4 separate regions of the Homo sapiens genome follow, and regions 1, 2 and 4 are each linked to region 3. The links come from fine-mapping of genetic effects on gene expression. A gene starts in region 3. Each other region holds a variant in brackets. All regions are shown on one strand. Distances are from middle to middle. Region 1 has its middle 28 kb from the start of SWAP70. Region 2 overlaps SWAP70 (switching B cell complex subunit SWAP70). Region 3 holds the start of SWAP70 (switching B cell complex subunit SWAP70). Region 4 has its middle 17 kb from the start of WEE1.

Evidence for each region.
Region 1: its variant is fine-mapped to the expression of SWAP70 in whole blood (INTERVAL, PIP above 0.99).
Region 2: its variant is fine-mapped to the expression of SWAP70 in whole blood (TOPMed, PIP above 0.99).
Region 4: its variant is fine-mapped to the expression of SWAP70 in T cells (TOPMed, PIP 0.98).

What each region holds. Positions count from the first base shown.
Region 1 is chr11:9,633,220-9,638,257 of GRCh38, reverse strand. No RefSeq gene overlaps it. Among named protein-coding and RNA genes, the nearest start is that of SWAP70, 28 kb to the left of the region's middle. The variant C/G (reference allele first, on the strand shown) is at 2,383.
Region 2 is chr11:9,735,900-9,740,937 of GRCh38, reverse strand. It overlaps SWAP70 (switching B cell complex subunit SWAP70), which reads right to left. Exons shown (of 12, transcript NM_015055.4): 8 at 2,618-2,725; 9 at 591-757. Among named protein-coding and RNA genes, the nearest start is that of SBF2-AS1, 20 kb to the left of the region's middle. RefSeq lists an enhancer at 363-482. The variant C/T (reference allele first, on the strand shown) is at 2,567.
Region 3 is chr11:9,661,263-9,666,300 of GRCh38, reverse strand. It overlaps SWAP70 (switching B cell complex subunit SWAP70), which reads right to left and starts at 2,224. Exons shown (of 12, transcript NM_015055.4): 1 at 2,023-2,224. The coding sequence starts at 2,121. RefSeq lists enhancers at 1,617-1,736, 2,847-3,046 and a silencer at 1,877-2,376.
Region 4 is chr11:9,553,709-9,558,746 of GRCh38, reverse strand. No RefSeq gene overlaps it. Among named protein-coding and RNA genes, the nearest start is that of WEE1, 17 kb to the left of the region's middle. The variant G/A (reference allele first, on the strand shown) is at 2,121.

The DNA.
Region 1 (5,038 bases), 28 kb after region 3:
TTCCTTTCATTAAACTCAAAACTTCCTGGACGCTTAGGCCTCCTGGACCAGGAGGGAGCCCCAAACCTGCCCTGCAGGTCAGCGCCTTCGGGAAGTTACTTCATTCAGTCTGCACTTTCCTGAAGCCCACACCATTTAACGAGGGCAGTAAGAGCAAAATAAACCAGAAATTTAATAAATAAACAGAAAATAAACAAACCAAGACTTTTCTTTCTCTGGATGGCCTTAGGTTGGCCAGGTGAACAAATCAATGCAAGGACACATCTTCCTGAAATTATTTATCTCACCCCACCCACTATGAAAAAGGCCAGAGCTTATTTAGCTATGATTCCAGGGAAAGGTTCAAGTTCTTGAAAGCCTTTTGAGATTTTGGCCTAGGGATTAACAGAACTCTGGGCGCAATGCTTTGGATTTCAGACTAATCAAGTTATTCCACAATCATCTATTGGGTACCTTATATTTTCTGGGTGCTGAGTTGAAATGGTGGAATCCTCTAGAGATTACTAGAACACAGACCGTGCTCTCCAGCTGCTCAGGGTGGAGTAGGGAAGATTAAACTATGAAGTGGGTAACTCTGGCTAGAAGGAAAAAAGTGCTAAGTGCCACAGAGAAACATAACCAAATAATAATAATCATTTATGTTTGAACAGGACTTCTTTTTTGTTTTTTTGAGATAGGGTCTCTCTCTGTCACCATGCTGGAGTGCAATGGCACCACCATAGCTCACTACAACCTCGAACTCCTGGGCTCAAGCAATCCTCCCACCTCAGCCTCCTGAGTAGCTAGGACTATAGGCACATGTCACCACACCTGGCTAATTTGGTTTTTGTTTTGTTTTGTTTTTTGGTAGAGACAGGGTCTTGACACGTTGCCCAGGCTGGTCTCGAACTCCTGGCCTCAAGCAATCTCCCTGCCTTGACCTCCCAAAGTGCTGGTATAACCACGCCTAGCCTGATCAGGACTTTCGAAGTCAGTTTCCTCATATTGTCTCACTTGATCCCCAGCACAACTATGGTGGAGCTCTGCAGTTATTCTCATCTAGCATCCTTTCACCATGCTGGAAATGCACCCTAACTTCTCATTGCAGAAACTCCACCCACCCACACTCATCCCATGTGTTGCTGCCAGGGATGCACCCCAGGGTCTGAGGTAGAACAAGTCCCCTGGGCCCTAGGCAATCCAAGCATCAAATTCTCCTGGCCATAGTGACCACCTCAGGGATGGGCACATGACCCAATGAGAGTCCGTGATAACTTTGTTGTGACTTGAGAAAGATGTTCTCAAGCTAGTCAGCTGGACTTGAAGCAGAAAGATTGGGTTCTAAGAGTGCTGCCAGCCATCAGGCTACTCTTTGAACCTGGGCATAAAGGTGACAGAGCAAAAGGCAGCTCTTAGAGAAGATAGTCAGACTCCTGCTGATAGCATTTGAGCTTTGAGTCCACCCCATGCCTGAAGCCATCTCTACCCCTGGACTTTTCACCTATATAAACCAATCTATGCCCTCTTCAGGATGGATTTTCCTTCACTCAAAACCAAAATGGTCATAAAAGTGACTTTAATTCTGTGAGGGAAATATTTCCATCTGTTTTAGATAATAACTGAAGCTGAGATAGGTAAAAAGAGGCAGCTAAGGAGTAACAGAGCCAGGTCCTGAGCCCCTAAGTCCTGATATCAATTCACAGCTTGAGTCCTTTACACTGCAGTGGACTTCTTCAATCGCAGAAATACAGAGGAAGCACACAAAACTTTAAGCTGAGAAGATTAGTCAGGCTTCATAGCAGCACCCATTGAGCTGGACTTTGAAAGACGTGTTGGATTTGGCCTGCAGTAATGCCAAAAGTGTATGGTTAGTTACTTGGGAGGCTGTGGCAGGAGGATTGTGTGAGCCCAGGAGTTTGAGGCTGCAGTGAGTTAGGATCATGCCACTGCACTCCTGACTGGGTGACAGAACGAGACCCAGTCACCTGGGGAAAAAAAAGTACCTGGGTAAAGAGCGCATCATACGCAAAGACATAGGGCCAGGTGTGGTGGCTCACGCCTGTAATCCCAGCACTTTGGGAGGCCGAGGCAGGCGAAACACGAGGTCAGGAGTCCGAGACCAGCCTGGCAAACGTGGTGAAACCCCGTCTCTACTAAAAAAAATACAAAAAATTAGCCAGGCGTGGTGGCACGCGCCTACAGTCCCAGCTACTTGGGAGGCTGAGGCAGAAGAATCACTTGAACTCTGGAGGCGGAGGTTGCAGTGAGCCGAGATCGCCCCACTGCACTCCAGCCTGGGCAACAGCGAGACTCCATCTCAAAACAAACAAACAGAAAAGAGCACATTATATGCAAGGACATGGATATGAGAAAGCTCAGAGGTACACAGAAAATAACAAGCAC[C/G]TTTGGTTTCTCTAAAGCATTGGGTAGATAAGAGAGGAAAGTAGGAAACTGAGTTAGAAACATACTTGGGGCAGAAAGTTTGGAGGACTTGAACTTTATCCTGAAGGCCAGAAATTCTCAGACCCCACTGTATTAAAGATTGGCTGCAAGTGACTGATACTCAATTTTGGCTAGCTTAGTTGCCCTATATCTTGGGGATGAGGCTATTGACCCAGTAAAGAGAATTCGAAAGAACCCACTCAGGAAAAAAAGTCAAATTCTTGGCTTTTAGTTCCAAAATAGTGTCTTCTTTTCTTTTTCTTTTCTTTTTTTAACACAGGGTCTTGCTCTGTCACCCAGGCTAGAGTACAGTGACATGATTACAGCTCACTACAGCGTCTACCTCCAGGGCTCAAGCGATCTTCCCACCTCAGCCTCCTGAGTAGCTGGGACTGCAGGTATATGCCACCACATCCAACTTTTGTATTTTATTGGTAGAGACAGGGTTTTGCCATGTTGCCCAGGCTAGCCTTGAACTCCTGGGCTCAAGCAATCTACCCGCCTTGGCCTCCCAAAGTGCTGGGATTACAGACATGAGCTACCACTCCCAGCCCAAAATAGTGTCTCAAAATCAGACAAGCTGACTGAACTGAGGCAGGAATCATCTCTCACACAAATAGAAATGCTGAGTAATTTTTAGAGACATATATGATAGCCAAACTAAGAAAAAAAGAGAGAAGGCCCAGGTGCAGTGGCTCGTGCCTGTAAGCCCAACACTTTGGGAAGCTAAGGTGCGCGGATTACTTGAGCCAGGAGTTCGAGACCAGCCTGGGCAAAATGGTGAAACCTCGTCTCTACAAAAAAATAAAAAATTAGCTGGGAGTCGTGGCACATACCTGTAATCCCAGCTAACCAGAGGCTGATGTAGGAGAATTGATTGGGCCCAGGAGACTGAGGCTGCAGTGAGCCGAGATTGCACCACTGCACTCCAGCTGGGCAACCAAGCGAGACACTATCTCAAAATAAAACAGAGAAAGGGAGAGAGAGAAGATCCAAATAAATAGAATCAGCAATGAAAAAGGAGACATTACAATTGATACTGCAGAAATTCGGAGGATCATTGGTGGCTACTATGAACAACTATATGCCAGTAAATTGGAAAATCTAGAAGAAATGGAAAAATTCCTAGACACATACAACCTACCAAGATTAAACCAGGAAGAAATCCAAACCCTGAACAGAACAATAACGAGTAACAAGATCAAAGCAGTAATGAAAAATCTTCCAGTAAAAGACAGCCTGGGACCCAATGGCATCACTGCTGAATTCTACCAAACATTTAAAGAAATAATACCAATCCTACTCAAACTATTCCGAAAAAATAGAGGAGAAGAGAATACTGTCAAACTCATTCTACAATGCCAGTATCACCCTGATACCAAAGCCAGACAAAGGCACATTAAAAAAAGAAAATTACAGGCCAATATCTCTGATGAATATTAATGCAAAAATCCTCAACAAAATCATAGCAAACTGAATTCAGCAATAGATTAGAAAGATCATTCATCATGACCAAGTGGGATTTATCCATGGGATGCAAAGATGGTTCAACATGTGCAAATCAATCAATGTGATACATCATATCAACAGAATGAAGGATTAGAACCATATGATCATTTCAAGCAATACTGAAAAAACATTTGATAAAATTCAACATCCCTTCACGATAAAATCCCTAAAGATATATCTGAGATTGAAAGTAAGAAAGAGACATTCCCAGGTGCCACAAATCAAAAGGGAACCCAAAGCTACCACAGTAAAGAGAATCTGAAGCTAAGACAGAATAGGTCTTGGCATGGCAGCAGGAAATGAGGCCTTGAGCCCTGACGAGATCTGAAGTTGGAATAAAGATTTTATTTGCTCCCCACAGGAGAAAAGAAAAACTCTACTTACCAATTTGGGGAAGGAACAAGAAAGCTTGCCATTGGCCTAGACCACAGGGAGGAAAAGAATCAGCTATGAAAAACAGGAACCTCAAGTCTGTTTCTACACCAATGGGACATGAACCCACATAATCTAGCAGGTGCAGGCCATAGATACTGAGCAAAATACGAATAAAGTCATGTCCAGCCAGTGTGATAGCTTTGGAAAACATCAAATATAAGAACCTAATATCATAAAAATAACCAGTAGAAAAAGACAGACTACTTACAGAAGAATAACAAACCACTGCAAGCTACTCTTCAACAATAGATGCCCAAAGACAAAGAAATAGCTTTTAAATTACTGATGGAAAATAATTGTCAAACTGAAATTCTACCCAGCTAAACTAGCATTAAAGAAGGAGAGGCAAATACAGATAATTTCCAACATACAAACCACCCAGTTTCTTCCTGAAATAATGATTAAAAATATTTGTCAGCACAAAGAAAATTGAACCCCAAATACCTGAAGTAATAGCACAAATAGGTATTCATACGGATAAGTCTAAGTAAGTATTGGCTTCTTAAAAAAAGAAGACCAACTCAAAGTGGCTGGTTAAAAATAAGATAGATCTGGAAAACCCAAAATAATCAAATAAATAGTTATTATAAATAATAAGAAAAATAGATGAGAAACTTTAATAAAAATAACTACAGGGAAATTATTAGTCTCCAAATATATCAAAAATAAGCAG
Region 2 (5,038 bases), 75 kb before region 3:
GCTGCCATGAAGGCCCAAAATTGAGAATTTTCATCTGCGAACATGACTATCATAAAGTTCTAAGGGGAAAAAAAATCTAGGTTTCAAATACTTTTAAAATTAGGATTTCAAGTAGTAATTACTGAAGGAATGTTACCAATCCTGAATGACCAAATAGAAACTGCATATTTCTTCCTTATTCCTCAAAACCTGACGGCAACGTTGGCCTGAACAGGCCTCTGCCTGCATACCAATGGCCCTCTCTGGTCTGGAGCGTGTTGAAGATGCCAAGCTCTTATCAGAGGTAATTCTGGGTTTGTGGATTTTCTCGAATAAGACTAAGGGTACCTCATCAAACATACCTACCAGACTGCTCTAAAATAGGCCCTTATTTAGCCCCAGAAGCAAGGGTTTCCCAGCGCCTCAGAATGAAAAGAAACACTCCAGCCGGTCGAGTCTCCACAGTCTTTCTAATCTGGACAGCACCTCGAGCTCAGTCACAGCCAGAGCAGAGACACTTCTCCCTCTCCACCAGAGTGTTAGTCATTCCAAGAAACTGTATTAGCCCAGGCAAAGTACATAAAGGCAAAGTCTGCAAACAAATCTGGCACCTGGCCTGAAGCTTCCGCACTGTCTCTTCATCTTGCCGGGCCTGTCTCTCATCTTCAAGAGCCTCCTGCAGCTTTAGGTACATGTCTTCCAGCTCCCGTACTCGCTGTAAATACTGTTCCAGTTCAGAGGACTTTTGAGCAACCTGTTCTTCCATCTGCTGTCTGATCTGTTGGTATAAAAGGGTCTTGTTTAAATGCAGGTTGACTTCTTTCTCAGGGAAAGCCTCACCTCCACCTGAGGGGTTGCCCACAGCTGCAGCCTCAGCCCATCAGGGTGGCAGGACCCTGTCCTTCAATCCTTGAACTTAAAGATGGAGGAGATGAGGGTACCACACCCAATCGCAATAGTGAAAGAGTCTGGGAAGAGCAAATTATAACCCAAATTATGTTCTGCCCTGCTGTATTTTCCATCCCTTCCACTCCACATTTTAAGACTCAAGTCAAGAAAAAAATGTTTCCTTGTGTAATTTCTCTCTAAATTCCTTTCTGTCTTAAAGTCACAATCTTTTTACCAATAGGGTCTTCTCTAAAAGGAACGAACCTTTTCCCAGTCAGAGCAAACGAACCTTTTCCCAGTCTTCTTTAGTGTTACACTAAAGAAGAAGGAAAGGTCATCCAGCATGGGATTCCTCCCACACTTCCCTGGCTGTCTCCACTCCCTGGGGCACCTCCAGCCCTAGAGGAACTCAAGCATTTCAGTTAATCTGTATACGTTAATGGTTTTTCCCTTCTGGATTACAGAGTTTTGAATCCCTGCCTTAAAAATTACAAGACAAGAACATCCTAAATATAACAAACACATTAGCCTATTTCTCTGCAGTTGATAAAATATTTTCACTTGCATTAGCTCACTCTGTCTTCAGAAGAGTCATGAGAGAGCATGTGATAATCCTGAACTTAAAGAAGAAAAAGCCAATGTTCAGTAAGAAGGACCAGAGAGGAAACAAGACCAGACATTCTGGCTGTTTCTCTACATCACATTTGCCTTCCTCTTTTCTCTGAACCACAAACACATCTCTTTCAACTCTAAATAACAAAAAGTGACTAGAGGAAATGTCACATGCATCTATTTAGGCACTGGGCTTAGCACTCTCTGACAGAGTATCACTCAATGTGAGAAGACCTGTGTTCCAGCTAACCAGCTAACTACCTAAGACAACCTGGATCTTGGGTCTCTTGAAGATGGAAGCCTCTAGGATGAACCGGAGCTGCCAAGAGCAACAAATCAGACTCTAGATGTTCTCACAATTTCAGGATCTCACCCCCGCCATCCTTGCTTATTACAGAGGAGATATACCATGGAACCTATGCTTACTTTTTCCATAACTATTTATTTTCCAAATCAGAACTGTTTTGAGAATGAAAAGGAATGTTATTAATAATTATACCAGAATGGCAGGGACTCTCCCAGGCAAACCAGGAAATATAGTCACCCTAACCAAGCATTTATCACATCATTCCACAAATTTCTTTTTTTTTCTTTTTTGGAGACAGGGCCTTGCTCTGTCACCCAGGCTGGAGTGCAGTGGCAAAATCACAGCTCACAGTAGCCTTGAACTCCTGGGCTCAAGCAATCCTCCCACCTCAGCCTCCTAAGTAGCTGGAACTACAGGCATGTACCAACAGGCCTGGCTAATTCTTTTTTTTTTTTTTTTTTTTGTAGATATTGCCCAGGCTGGTCTTGAACTCCTGGGCTCAAGCAATTCTCATGCCTTGGCCTCCCAAAGTGCTGGGATTACAGGAGTGGGCCACCATGCCTGGCTCCATAAATTTCCACTTAGGAGTCTTGAAAACAAGGTTTATGTCTTTTGCCATTACATCTTTGGCACACTGCCTGGCACATAGAAGGTGTTCAATAAACAGATAATTAATGAATGAACAAACATGCAACTTCCCCTACAGCCCATTCCAGGTCAGTAGCAAAGCCAAGCTGATGACATGCCTCACTGTAGCCTCCAGCCCTTCCCTGTTCCCAC[C/T]GACCCAGGCTGAGCTACTGCAGCTGCTTTCTCCAGCCATGTGATACTCACAAGCTTCTCTCTTTCCAGCTCTGTGCTGAACCTGGCCTGAAGTTCCACTTGAGTCTGAAGGCGTTTCTTTTCCTCTTCTGCTGCACGAGATGCTGCTTCCTCCAGTTTCTAGCCAATCAAAAACCCATCCACAGAAAAGCAGGTGTTAGAGTAGAAGTACATTAAAGAGAGAGAGACAGTCATACTTAAGTACAGGAAAAGCCAAACATTCTTAACATTCAATAAAGATAATAGAATAAAAACTTTTAGCTCCATTAGAATTCCAGTCTAACGATCTGCTGAATCAACATACAAAATAAATTAGGTAAATGAAAGACTATTGATAAGCCTGAACAACATTTTGCAAAGAAAGTTTTAGTACAGTCATTGAATTAAATTCACTTGGGATTGCATTCATGAGATTTTTATTTATTTATTTATTTATTTGAGACTGAGTCTTGCTCTGTCGCCAGGCTGGAGTGCAGTGGCACGATCTCGGCTCACTGCAACCTCCACCTCCCAGGTTCAAGTGATTCTCCTGCCTCAGCCTCCCGAGTAGCCGGGACTACAGGCACACACCACCACATCCAGCTAATTTTTGTATTTTTAGTAGACACGGGGTTTCATCATGTTGGCCAGGATAGTGTCGATCTCTTGACCTCGTGATCCGCCCACCTCAGCCTCCCGAAGTGCTGGGATTACAGGTGTAAGCCACCATGCCCAGCCACATTCATGAGATTTGAGAGCTATTTCTTGAGCTCTTTCTGTACAGTTTTTTCATCTTATACATTATTCATTATAACTTTTACCAGAACCAATTTCTAGAAGGGTGGCATAAGGAGCTCCACAGACCCTTTCCCCAACAAAACAACCATAACTGGTGAAAATTATTGTTAAAAAAACAAAACCTTTAAAAGTCTCTAGAAATTATGCTAAGGACATTCTAAAATGGAGAACATTTATCTAAGAAAATCTAACTCTCAGTAAGAATCGTGAGGGTCTGTGGCATATGATGCACTCCCTCCCCACCCCCACAGTGTCAGTGAGAAGAAAGCTCTTCTCCTGGCAGATGGAACCCCAAACAAGGGTTCCCCTCCCCTCAGCTCAAGCCTAGGGCTATGATACCTTCCTGGGAGGGGCAGGCTGGCTGCCAGAATTTCTCTTTGTCCCCAGCTGCATGTTGCAGAAACTTTATTCCAGGCAAGAGTGGCTGAGAATTAAGAGGAGGCCAGAAGCTCCATGAGAACAACACACTAACACACGGACCAGCTAAAAGTGTTGTTGGTTTGTTGGTTGACTGCTATGAGGTCTCGCTATGTTGCCCAGGCTGGTCTCAAATTCCTGGCCTCAAGTGATCCTCCCACCCTGTCCTCCCAAAGTGATTAACAGGTGTGAGCCACTGCTCTTCCAGACCAGCCAAACGTCTGACAGACAGAACCAGAGAAAGAGACAGCTAAGAAGAGTTCTCATGTAGTAGGAACAAGTCTCAAAGACTGACCTTAAAGACTACATGTAGGCCTGAATTTAAATGATCTCAGACTGTGAGGCAATTCAGGTTCCAGGGCATTATGGAGAACAACAGAACAAAATTAGTGAACTCTAACAGCTGTTGGTGTGGTACCAACAGAGGTGGAAAGCTTAAATGAGAGATCAGAGAAAGACACTCAAAGAGAGCCCTGCAAAAATCAGGGTCTTCGCAGGGTGACTGTGTTCCTGTCCAAGCCTGTGCCTCTGAGGAGCAACAGTCAGAAGCTTCACACTGTGAGGAAAACAAACTTCACTGAAATAGTCCAGCCAAGTCACTAAACAAATAAAGGAGCAAACAACAGCAGGCCTCTGGGGAGAGGGGTGGAATCAGAATCCAGAGTTGCTACCACACATTATCTAAAATGTCTAGTTTTCTACAAGAAATTATGAGACATGCAAAGAAAAAGGAAAGTATGGCCCATATACAGGGAAAAAGCAGGCAACGGAAACTGCCTTTGAAGAGGCCCAGATGGTGGATTTAGCATATGAAGACTTCAAAGCAGTTATAAATATTTTATGCTCAAATAACTAAAGGAAACCATACTTAGAGAAGTAATGGAAGGAATGACAATATACCATAAAATAGAGAATAATAAAGAGATATAAATCACAGAAAAAACCAAATGGAAATTCTGGAAGTAAAAAGTCCCATAACTGAAACGAAAAATTCACTAGAGGGACTCAACAGTATATTTGGGCTACAAGAAAAATCTACTAAAGACAGATCTATAGAAATTATGCAACTGGAAAACAGAAAATAAAAAAGAAGAAAAATGAACACAGCCTTAGAGAAATGTGGGACACCATTATGTGCACCAACATTTGCATAACGAAAGTATCAGAAGAGGGAAAAAAAAGTAGAAAAAATATTTGTGGCTGAAAACTTATCCAGCTTAAGGCAAAACATTAATCTAC
Region 3 (5,038 bases):
CAGCCTGGCCAACATGGTGAAACCCCGTTTCTACTAAAAATACAAAAATTAGCTAGGTGTGGTGACGCACACCTGCAATCCCAGCTACTTGGGAGGCTGAGGCACGAGAATCTCTAGAACCTAGGAGACAGACGTTGCAGTGAGCCGAGATCACACCACCGCACTCCAGCCTGGGCAACAGGGCAAGACTGTGTCTCAGAAAAAAAAAAAACAAAAAACTAAAGCATATTCAAATAATCCCAAAGATGGAAGAAAAAGAGAGGAAAAAAAAAAAGCAGAAACCAAATTATAATAAAATGGTAGCCCTAAATCAAACCATATCAATAATTACATTAAATGTAAATGGCCTAAATATACCAATTAAAAGACAGAGATTGTCAGAATGAATAAAAAAAAAGACCCAGCTACATCTATTTATTAAAAACTTACTTTAAATAAAATGGCATAGGTAAGTTAAAAGTAAAAATAAAAGTAAAATGTAGACCTACTCATAACTCCCCCGAACTGGAAATAACACAAATTCTCACAGATGCATGGCTAAAAACTACCATACATCCATGCAATAGAATATTACTTAGCAATTTAAAAAATTATTGGTACACACAACAAAATGGATTAATCTCTAAGGCATTATGCTGGGTAAAAGAAATCAGTTTCAACAGTTACAAACTATATGACTCCATTTACATGGCACTTCGGAAAAGGTAAAACTATAGCAATTAGGAAAGATCAATGGTTGCCGACAGTTGGGGTGGAGGCAGGGCAACATCAGGGAGTTTTTTAGGATGATGGAACTGAGGAAGCCATGGTTGTGGTGATAGTTATATAAATCTATACATATGTTGAAATTTATAGAACTGTACACCAAAAGTCAATTTTACTGTATGTTAATATTTAAAAATGAAGTAAAATAAAAATTACGTGGATGATCTCCATGGACCCTTCCAGACTATGATTCTATCAGTGAGAAAAAGAAAGGAGAGGCAAAAGGAAGACAAGGAGAATGTTAAGTCCTACTGGCATAAAAGCCACTACTCAGAAGAACGGGATTACTGTACAAAAATATACAAAACAAACCCAATCTTCAGAATTTATTCCCAGAAGGGGCTAAGAAAACCGGACATTCGGATCTAAAATATGTATATTTTTAAATGCCTATGAATAGCTTTTCTTGTCTGTTTCTATATTTTTTTACTTTGAAGAAGCTGCCAATTTCTGCTGGCTTAATGCCAATTTCGCTGCTTGGGGTTACTCAATTTACAAGCATCCCTTTATTTATACCCTATACTCTAGGGTCTCCGGCAGTCACAATAACGACTCTGAAAAAGCAGTCGCTTTTGCAGGGTGCCAGAAAGATCAGCGCTCCTCACCCGGAACTAAGGTCCCTGTGGGACACAGTACACCCCGTCCACTAGTTCCAAACTTAAAAGACGCTGGGCGGAAGGTCTTCCCAAGTCAAAAAGCCTCCCAAAGGAGAAGGACCCTGGAGGCCGGGCTTCGGGGCATTTCTGCGTCTCCGGACTGCCCTGTCGCCTCCGGGGCAGCTAGCCGTTTTGAGGACTGTCCTGGTGTGGGGCTGTGGGCTGCAGAAGGTTCTGCCCAGCGACCTTGGGCAAGTCCCTTCCTCTCCTGGAGTAAGAGGAAAATTCTGGGAAGGCTGTGTAAGGGAGCTTCCCATTGCCGCCTCAGAATCCACTTTCTGCCCCCCGCTCTCCAACGCCAAGAAGGAATCACACTTGGCCCTCCAGACTTCACCCCAGCCTTATGCCCGCCACCCTTCCCAGTCCCTGGGAGACCCGCGGGAACTAACACATCCAACCGAGGGCATGGCCCGAAGGCAAGGGGGAGGCAGTAAACACCAAATCCCGGTCTCAGACCCACTCCGCCCCAAGCGGGCCTACCGGGCGCATTCCGACCCGCCCCGCCCTGCGGTCACGGCCCGCCAGGTCCCGCTTCCACCCAAGGGAAGTACAGAGCGCGCCGGGGAGGGTCGGGTGGGGGGCCGGGTCAGGAGGCGCCCACCTTGAGCTGGGACTTGGAGACCTTGCCGCTGTGGTCCTGGTCGAGTGCGGTGAAGGCGTGCCAGATGGCTTTGAGCAGCTCCTCCTTCAAGCTCCCCATGGCCGCGGCCCTGCTGCCCCGCCAACCCCTCCTGCCCAGCCAGCCCCTCCGCGCCTCGGACGCCCCTCAACCTCCGCAGCCACAGCCCGCCGCGCAGTCACCTGACCCGCCAGGCCCCGCCCCCGCCAGGCCCCGCCCTGCTGCCGGCGCCGGTCCAGTGCCGCGCCCACAGCCGCCAGAGTGTGGGTTCTGCGAGTCAAGCCACGCCTGGTGGCAAGAATGCTTGGCCTTCAGTGTCAGCCAGGACGGTAAACACATCTCCCTAATGTTTCCCAGACCAGTTCGGGCCATTTTGGGTGCTCGAGTACAACACCTCACACAAATGACCGCGTCTTGAGGAAAAACCCGAGAGATTAGGTGAGCAGCCTACCCGCCTCCTCCCAGCGCCCCGCAGTGAAAAAGGGATCCCTGGTCCTGTCCTGGGAACGGAGTCACTGTCTGAGAAGGCCAGAGAAGACCCCGAAAAGTCCCCAGACCAGGACTGAAATGATAGCGCAGTCCCAAGTCGGGGAGATGCAGGGCGGCGGGGAGGCAGGAAGGACCTCGAGGGAAGTTTGTTGGTTCATTTCGCAAAAGTTTATTCATGCATACTCTATCTTGGGTTCTAGGGACACAGCGACGACGTTTAAGGGGAGTTTAGAAGTCAGGGTCAGGCAGCATTTTCTTCCTAACGCCTAGCTGTTGTTCAATTCACATCTTAGGAGGGGTTTGACCTGGGTAATACCTCTCTGTAGTGTTTCTCTGCTTGCAGAATAGGAGATCTGGGCCAATTCCAAATCACTCCACCCATTTTACTAATCCAAAGAGATGGACCATTTAAAAGAACGTATTCGGCCAGGCGTGGTGGCTCACGCCTGTAATCCCAGCCCTTTGGGAGGCCAAGGCGGGCGGATCACCTGAGGTCGGGGGTTCGAGACCAGCCTGACCAACATGAAGAAACCCCGTCTCTACTAAAAATACAAAATTAGCCGGGCGTGGTGGCACATGCCTGTAATCTCAGCTACTCGGGAGGCTGAGGCAGGAGAATCGCTTGAACCCGGTAGGCGGAGGTTGCAGTGAACCAAGATCGCGCCATTGCACTCCAGCCTGGGCAACAAGAGTGAAACTCCGTCTCAAAAAAAAAAAAAAAAGTATTCGATTGCAGCTGTTGAATTAATATCTGTTCGCGGTGGTCACAATGGTCACTTGATCTCTTTGGGCTTCAAATTATCCCGTATAAAAAGAGCAGGGTTGCACCAGATGTTCTGGAAGGGTTCTTGCAGTACTAGCATCCTAGGATAATAACTATTGCCGGTTAACTAAGGTCTGATTAAATCGCCAGGCTCAGTACCTCTCCTCTCCAATCCTGGACTAATTGGAGAGAACAATAAACACCAAGAGTTTTTAAAATGAGGTGGTTCTCAGATGAAGTTTGGTTTTGTTTTGCTTTTTTAAGTTCCTTAATGCACATGTTTGCCTTATTAAGAAAGGAAAAGATCTTCATAAGAAAGGGATATTTGGAAAGAGAAGAACAAGAAGGAGCCTCTTCAGTGAGTTTGAGATCAAAAAGGAACTGGTGGGGAAGAGGAGAGGATGGCCCCACTGACGAAAGAAGGGGCAGGAGCAAAAGGGTGGCCAGCCCCTCACTGTGACTGTCCTGAAGGTTCTACCCCATTTCATCACCATTTGTCAGGACTTTTCTTGCCCTACCAGAATCCAATTTCTATCATTTATCTTCCCCATTTCCAGCCCAAGTCTGCCAGTCAGCAAAACCACATGGTTTAACCTCTGATTTATTCATGCGAAGTCAGCTTACCCTGAGTAGCAAAAAAAAAAAAAAAAGAAGAAGAAGAAAAAAGAAACGAAGAAAACCTCCTAATTCTCAAGGTTCAGTTTAACCACTATATGACCCTTCTTCTCTCTCAGTATCTGGAAGTACCAAACATATTTCAAAGCCTTTTTTTTATGACAAGACCAGGACATTGTGGACTTCCAAATTCCTACTTCTCCCATCATCCTCATTCATACAATCCAAACGCATTTTTTTTCTTTTTTTTTCTTTTCTTTTTTTTTTGAGACAGAGTCTCACTCTGTTGCCCAGGCTGGAGTGCAACGGTATGATCTCAGCTCACTGCAACCTCCGCCTCCCGGGTTCAAGCGATTCTCCTGCCTCAACCTCCCAAGTAGCTGGGATTACAGGCGCCAGCCACCACGCCCGGCTAATTTTTTTATTTTTAGTAGAGATGGGGTTTCGCCATGTTGGCCAGGTTGGTCTCAAACTCCCAGCCTCAAGTGAGCTGCCCTCCTTGGCCTCCCAAAGTGCTGGGATTACAGGCGTGAGCCACCATGCCCTTCCTATCCAAACAAATTTTAAAGTAGCATGATGTCATAGAAAGCGCTGTGCTTTTCCTGGGTGCAGTGGCTCCTGCCTGTAATCCCAACACTTTGAGAGACTGGGGTGGGAGGATTGCTTGAGGCCAGGAGTTCAAGACCAGCCTGGGCAATGTAGCAAAACCCCGTCTCCACAAAAAAATTGAAAATAAGAAAGAAAGAAAAGTAAAGAGTTGTGCTTCAGAATCTAACAGATTATATTAATCTAATGCTGTGTAACCAATTAACCCAAAATTTAGCAGCTTAAAACTATAGTAAACATTATTTCATATTTTCTGTAAGTCAGGAATTTAGAAGCCACTTAGCTCTATAGTTCTGGCTTGAAGTGTCTCAGGAGGTTGCAGTAAAATATAGGGCTGTAGTCATTTGAAGGCTAGGCTGATGCTGGAAAATCTATTTCCAAGGTGGTTCACTCACATGGATGGGTCGTTTACAGAAGGCCTCAGTTCCTCTGTATATGGGCCTGTCCTCAGGCTGCTTGAGTATCCTTACAACACGTCAGCTGGCTTTCAATTGATTCAAGAAAGAGAAAGATGGAAGTTGCAAT
Region 4 (5,038 bases), 110 kb after region 3:
TAGCCAGGCACGGTGGCACATGTCTATAGTCCCAGCTACTTGGGCGGCTGAGGCATGCGAATTGCTTGGACCTGGGAGGCGGAGGTTGCAGTGAGCCAAGATTGGCCACTGCGCTCCGGCCTGGGTGACTGAGTGAGACTCTGTCTCAAACAAACAAATGAACAAACATACAAACTTCAGGTAAACAACCTAATGGTGTCTCTTAAAGAACTAGAAAAGCAAGCACAAACCAAACCCAAAGTCAGTAGAAGAAAAGAAATAATAAAGACCAGAGCAGAAATAAATGAAATTGAAACAAATAATACAAAGGATGAAAACAAAAAAATCATTTTTTGAAAAGACAAATAAGGCCGGGCGTGATGGCTCACACCTGTAATCCCAGCACTTTGGGAGGCTGAGGTGGGGGGGATCACAAGGTCAGGAGATCGAAACCACGGTGAAACCCCGTCTCTACTAAAAAATACAAAAAATTAGCTGGGCCTGGTGGTGGGCGCCTGTAGTCCCAGCTACTCGGGAGGCTGAGGCAGGAGAATGGCGTGAACCTGGGAGGCGGGGCTTGCAGTGAGCCAAGATCGTGCCACTGCACTCCAGCCTGGGTGACAGAGCGAGACTCCGTCTCAAAAAAAAAAAGAAAGAAAGAAAAGATAAACAAAATGACAAACCTTTAGCCAGACTAAGAAAAAAAGAGAGAAGACCGAAATAAATAAAATGAGAGGTTTTGAAAAGGGAGACGTTACAACTGATACCAAGAAATTCAAAGGATCTTAGGTACTACTATGAGTAAGTATATGCCAACAAATTGGAAAACCTAGAAAAAAATAGATAAATTTCTAGATACATGAAACCTACTGAGTTGAACCATGAAGAAATTCAAAACTTTAACAGACCAATAGTAAGTAACAATTTCAAAGCCAAAATAAAAAGTCTGCTGGCAAAGAATAGCCTGGGGCTCAATAGTTTCACTGATGAATTTTACCAAACATTTAAATAACTAATACCAATCCTACTCAAACTATTCAAAAAAATTGAGGAGGAGGGAATACTTTCAAACTCATTCCATGAGGCCATTATTACCCTGATAGCAAAACCAGACAAAGACACATCAAAAAAAAAAAAAAAAAAGAAAGAAAGAAAAGAAAAAAGAAAGAAAACAACAGGCCAATATCCCTGATGAACATTGATGCAAAAATCCTCAACCAAATACTATTAGGTTGCTGCAAAAGTAATTGCGGTTTCAGACTGTAAATTTTAAATCATTATAACTAGGCTCAAACACATCTTTATTAATCAAAACAGGAAACATTACAATCAACACATTTTTGCCAGTGAGAAATCTTTATTCCTATGGTGTAAAAATCCATGCTTCAGGATTCAACAAACTCTTGGAAATCATTTTCTGCATCCTGCTGGTTGTGGAAGCGTTTTCCGTACAAAAAGTTGTTGAGATGCTTGTAGAAGTGGTAGTCAGTTGGTGAGAGGTCAGGTGAGTATGGCAGATGAGGCAAAACTTCATAGCCCAATTTGCTCAACTTTTGAAGCGTTGGTTGTGTGACGTGTGTTTGGGTGTTGTCCTGGAGAAGAATTGGGCCCTTTCTGTTGACCAATGCTGGCTGCAGTTGTTGCAGTTTTTGGTGCATCTCGTCCGTTTGCTGAGCATAGTTCTCAGATGTAATGGTTTTGCCAGGATTCAGAAAGCTATACTGGATCAGACCAGCAGCAGACCACCAAACAGTGGCCATGACCTTTTTTGGTGCAAGTTTGGCTTTGGGAAGTGCTTCGGAGCTTCTTCTCAGTCCAACCACTAAGCTGGTCGTCACCAGTTGTTGTATAAAATCCACTTTTTGTCACATGTCACAATCCGATCAAGAAATGGTTCACTGTTATTGCATAGAATAAGAGAAAACAACACTTCAAGACAACATTTTTTAAAATTTTTGCTCAGCTCATGAAGCACCCACTTATCAAGACACCTTTTTTTCACCTTTTTTTCCCACCTTTTTCACCTTTTCAATTTGCTTCAAATGCCACATGACCATAGAATGGTCGAGGTGGAGTTCTTTGGCAATTTCTCATGTAGTTGTAAGAGGATCAGCTTTGATGATTGCTGTCAATTGGTCATT[G/A]TCAACTTCTGATGGCTGGCCATACACTCCTCATCTTCAAGGCTCTTGTCTCCTTTGCAAAACTTCTTGAACCACCACTGTACTGTACATTCATTAGCAGTTCCTGGGCCAAATGCCTTATTGATGTTATGAGTTTTCTTGCTGCTTTATGACCCATTTTGAACCCAAATAAGAAAATTGCTCTAATTTGCTTTTTGTCTAACATAATTTCCGTAGTCTAAAATAAACATAAAATAAACAACAAATAATAAGTCATTAGCAAGAAAACATAAAGCGAGAAATGTCCATTAAAATGATGTATGACCTAACCACATTTATTGAAGAATGTATTCCAACATCAAACGGCAAATTCCAACAATGCAAAAACTGCAATAGTTTTGCACTCACCTTAATAGCAAACTGAATTCAACAACACATTAAAAAGATGATTCATCATGACCAAGTGAGATTTATCCCAGGGATGCAAGGACGCAAGGATGCAAGGATGTCATATGCAAATCAATCAATGCAATACATCATATCTACAGAATGAGGGACAAAACTATACTATCATTTCAATTCACACTGAAAAAGCATTTGATAAAATTCAACATCCCTTCATTATAAAAACCCTAAAAAAACCTGGGTGTAGAAGGAACATGTTTTGGCCGGGCGCGGTGGCTCACACCTGAAATCCCAGCACTTTGGGAGGCCAAGGTAGGTGGATCACTTGAGGTCAGGAATTCGAGACCGGCCTGACCAACATGGTGAAACCCCATCTCTACTAAAAATACAAAAAAATTAGCCAAGCATGGTGGCGCACACCTGTGATCCCAGCTACTCAGGAGGCTGAGGCAGGAGAATCACTTGAACCCAGGAGGCGGAGGTTGCAGTGAGCCGAGATTGCACCATTGCACTCCAGCCTCGGTGACAAGAGTGAAACTCTGTCTGGAAAAAAAAAAAAATAAGAACATACTTCAACATAGCCCTACATGACAGACCCACAGCTAGTGTCATACTCAATGGTGAAAAACTGAAAGTCTTTCTTCTAAGATCTAGAGCATGACAAGGATGCCCACTTTCATCACTGTTATGCAACATGGTACTGGAAGTCCCAGCTAGAGCAATCAGACAAGAAAGAGAAAGAAAGGGCATCCAAATTGGAAAGGAAGAAATCAAATTATCCTTGTTTGCAGATGATATGATCTTATATTTAGAAAAACCTAAAGACACCACTAAAAAATTATTAGAACAGATATACAAATTCAGTAAACTTGCAGGAAATAAAACAATATACAAAAGTCAACATGCAAAATCAACATATATCAGTACACACAGCTATTATTGGGTTAAAAAAAAAGAGAACATAACATATAAAAATCATTTCTAGGCCAGGCATGGTGGCTCAAGCCTGTAATCCCAGCACTTTGGGAGGCAGAGGCGGGTGGATCACAAGGTCAGGCGTTCAAGACCAGCCTGGCCAACATGGTGAAACCCTGTGTCTACTAAATATACAAAAATTGTCCAAGCATGGTGGTGCGCACCTATAGTCCCAGCTACTCAGGAGGCCGAGGCAAGAGAATCACTTGAACCTGGGAGGCAGAGATTGCGGTCAGCTGAGATCGCACCACTGCACTCCAGCCTAGGCAACAGAGTAAGACTTCATCCTCCCCCAAAAAAATAAAAAATAAAAAATAAATTAAAATAAATTTTAAAATCGGCCTGTAATCCCAGCACTTTCAGAGGCTGAGGTGGGCAGATCACGAGGTCAGGAGATCAAGACCATCCTGGCCAATGTGGTGAAACCCCCATCTCTACTAAAAGTACAAAAATTAGCTGGGGATGGCGGTGTGTGCCTGTAATCCCAGCTACTTGGGAGGCTGAGGCAGGAAAATTGCTTGAACCCGGGAGGCGGAGGTTACAGTGAGCTGAGATCACGCCACTGCACTCCAGCCTGGTGACAGAGCTAGACTCCGTCTCAAAAAATAACTAACTAAAAATTAAAATTAAAAATTAAAAAATAATAAAAAATGTTTCTATATGCCAACAGTAAACAATGTGAAAAATCATAAAAGTAATCCCATTTACAATAGCTACAAATAAAATAACATACCTAGGAATTAATTTAACCAAAGAAGTGGAAGATTTCTACAATGAAAACTATAAAACATTATTGAAAGAAATTGAAGAGGACATTAAAAAAGGAAAAATAGTCCATGTTCATGGATTGGAAGAATCCATATTGTTAAAATGTCCATACTATCCAAAGTAATCTATGTATTCAATACAATACCTATCAAAATACTAAAGACATTCTCCACAGAAAGAGAAAACACAATCCTAAAATTTATATGGAACTGCAAAAGATCCAAAATAGCCAAAGCTATCCTGAGAAAAAAAACAAAAACAAAAACAAAAAAACTGGAGGAATCACATTACCTGACTTCAAATTATACTACAGAACTGTGGTAACCAAAACAGCATAGTACAGGCATAAAAGCAGACACATGGACTAATGGAACAGAATAGAGAACCCAGAAACAAATCCATACATCTAAGGTGAACTCATTTCTCAACAAAGGGGCCAAGAGCATACAATGGAGAAAAGACAGCGTCTTCAACAAATGGTGCTGAGAAAACTGGATATCCATATGCAGAAGAATGAAACTAGACCCCTGTCTTTCACTATATACAAAACTCAAATCAAAATGGATTAACGACTTAAATCTCAGACCTCAAACTATGAAACTACTAAAGAATATATTGAGGAAACGCTCCAGGACATTAGACTGGGCAAAGGTTTCTTGAATAATGCCCCACAAGCACAGGCAACCAAAGCAAAAATGGACAAATGAGATCACATCAAGTTTAAAAGCTTCTGCACAGCAAAGGAAACAGCAAAGTGAAGAGACAACCCACAGCATAGGAGAAAATATTTG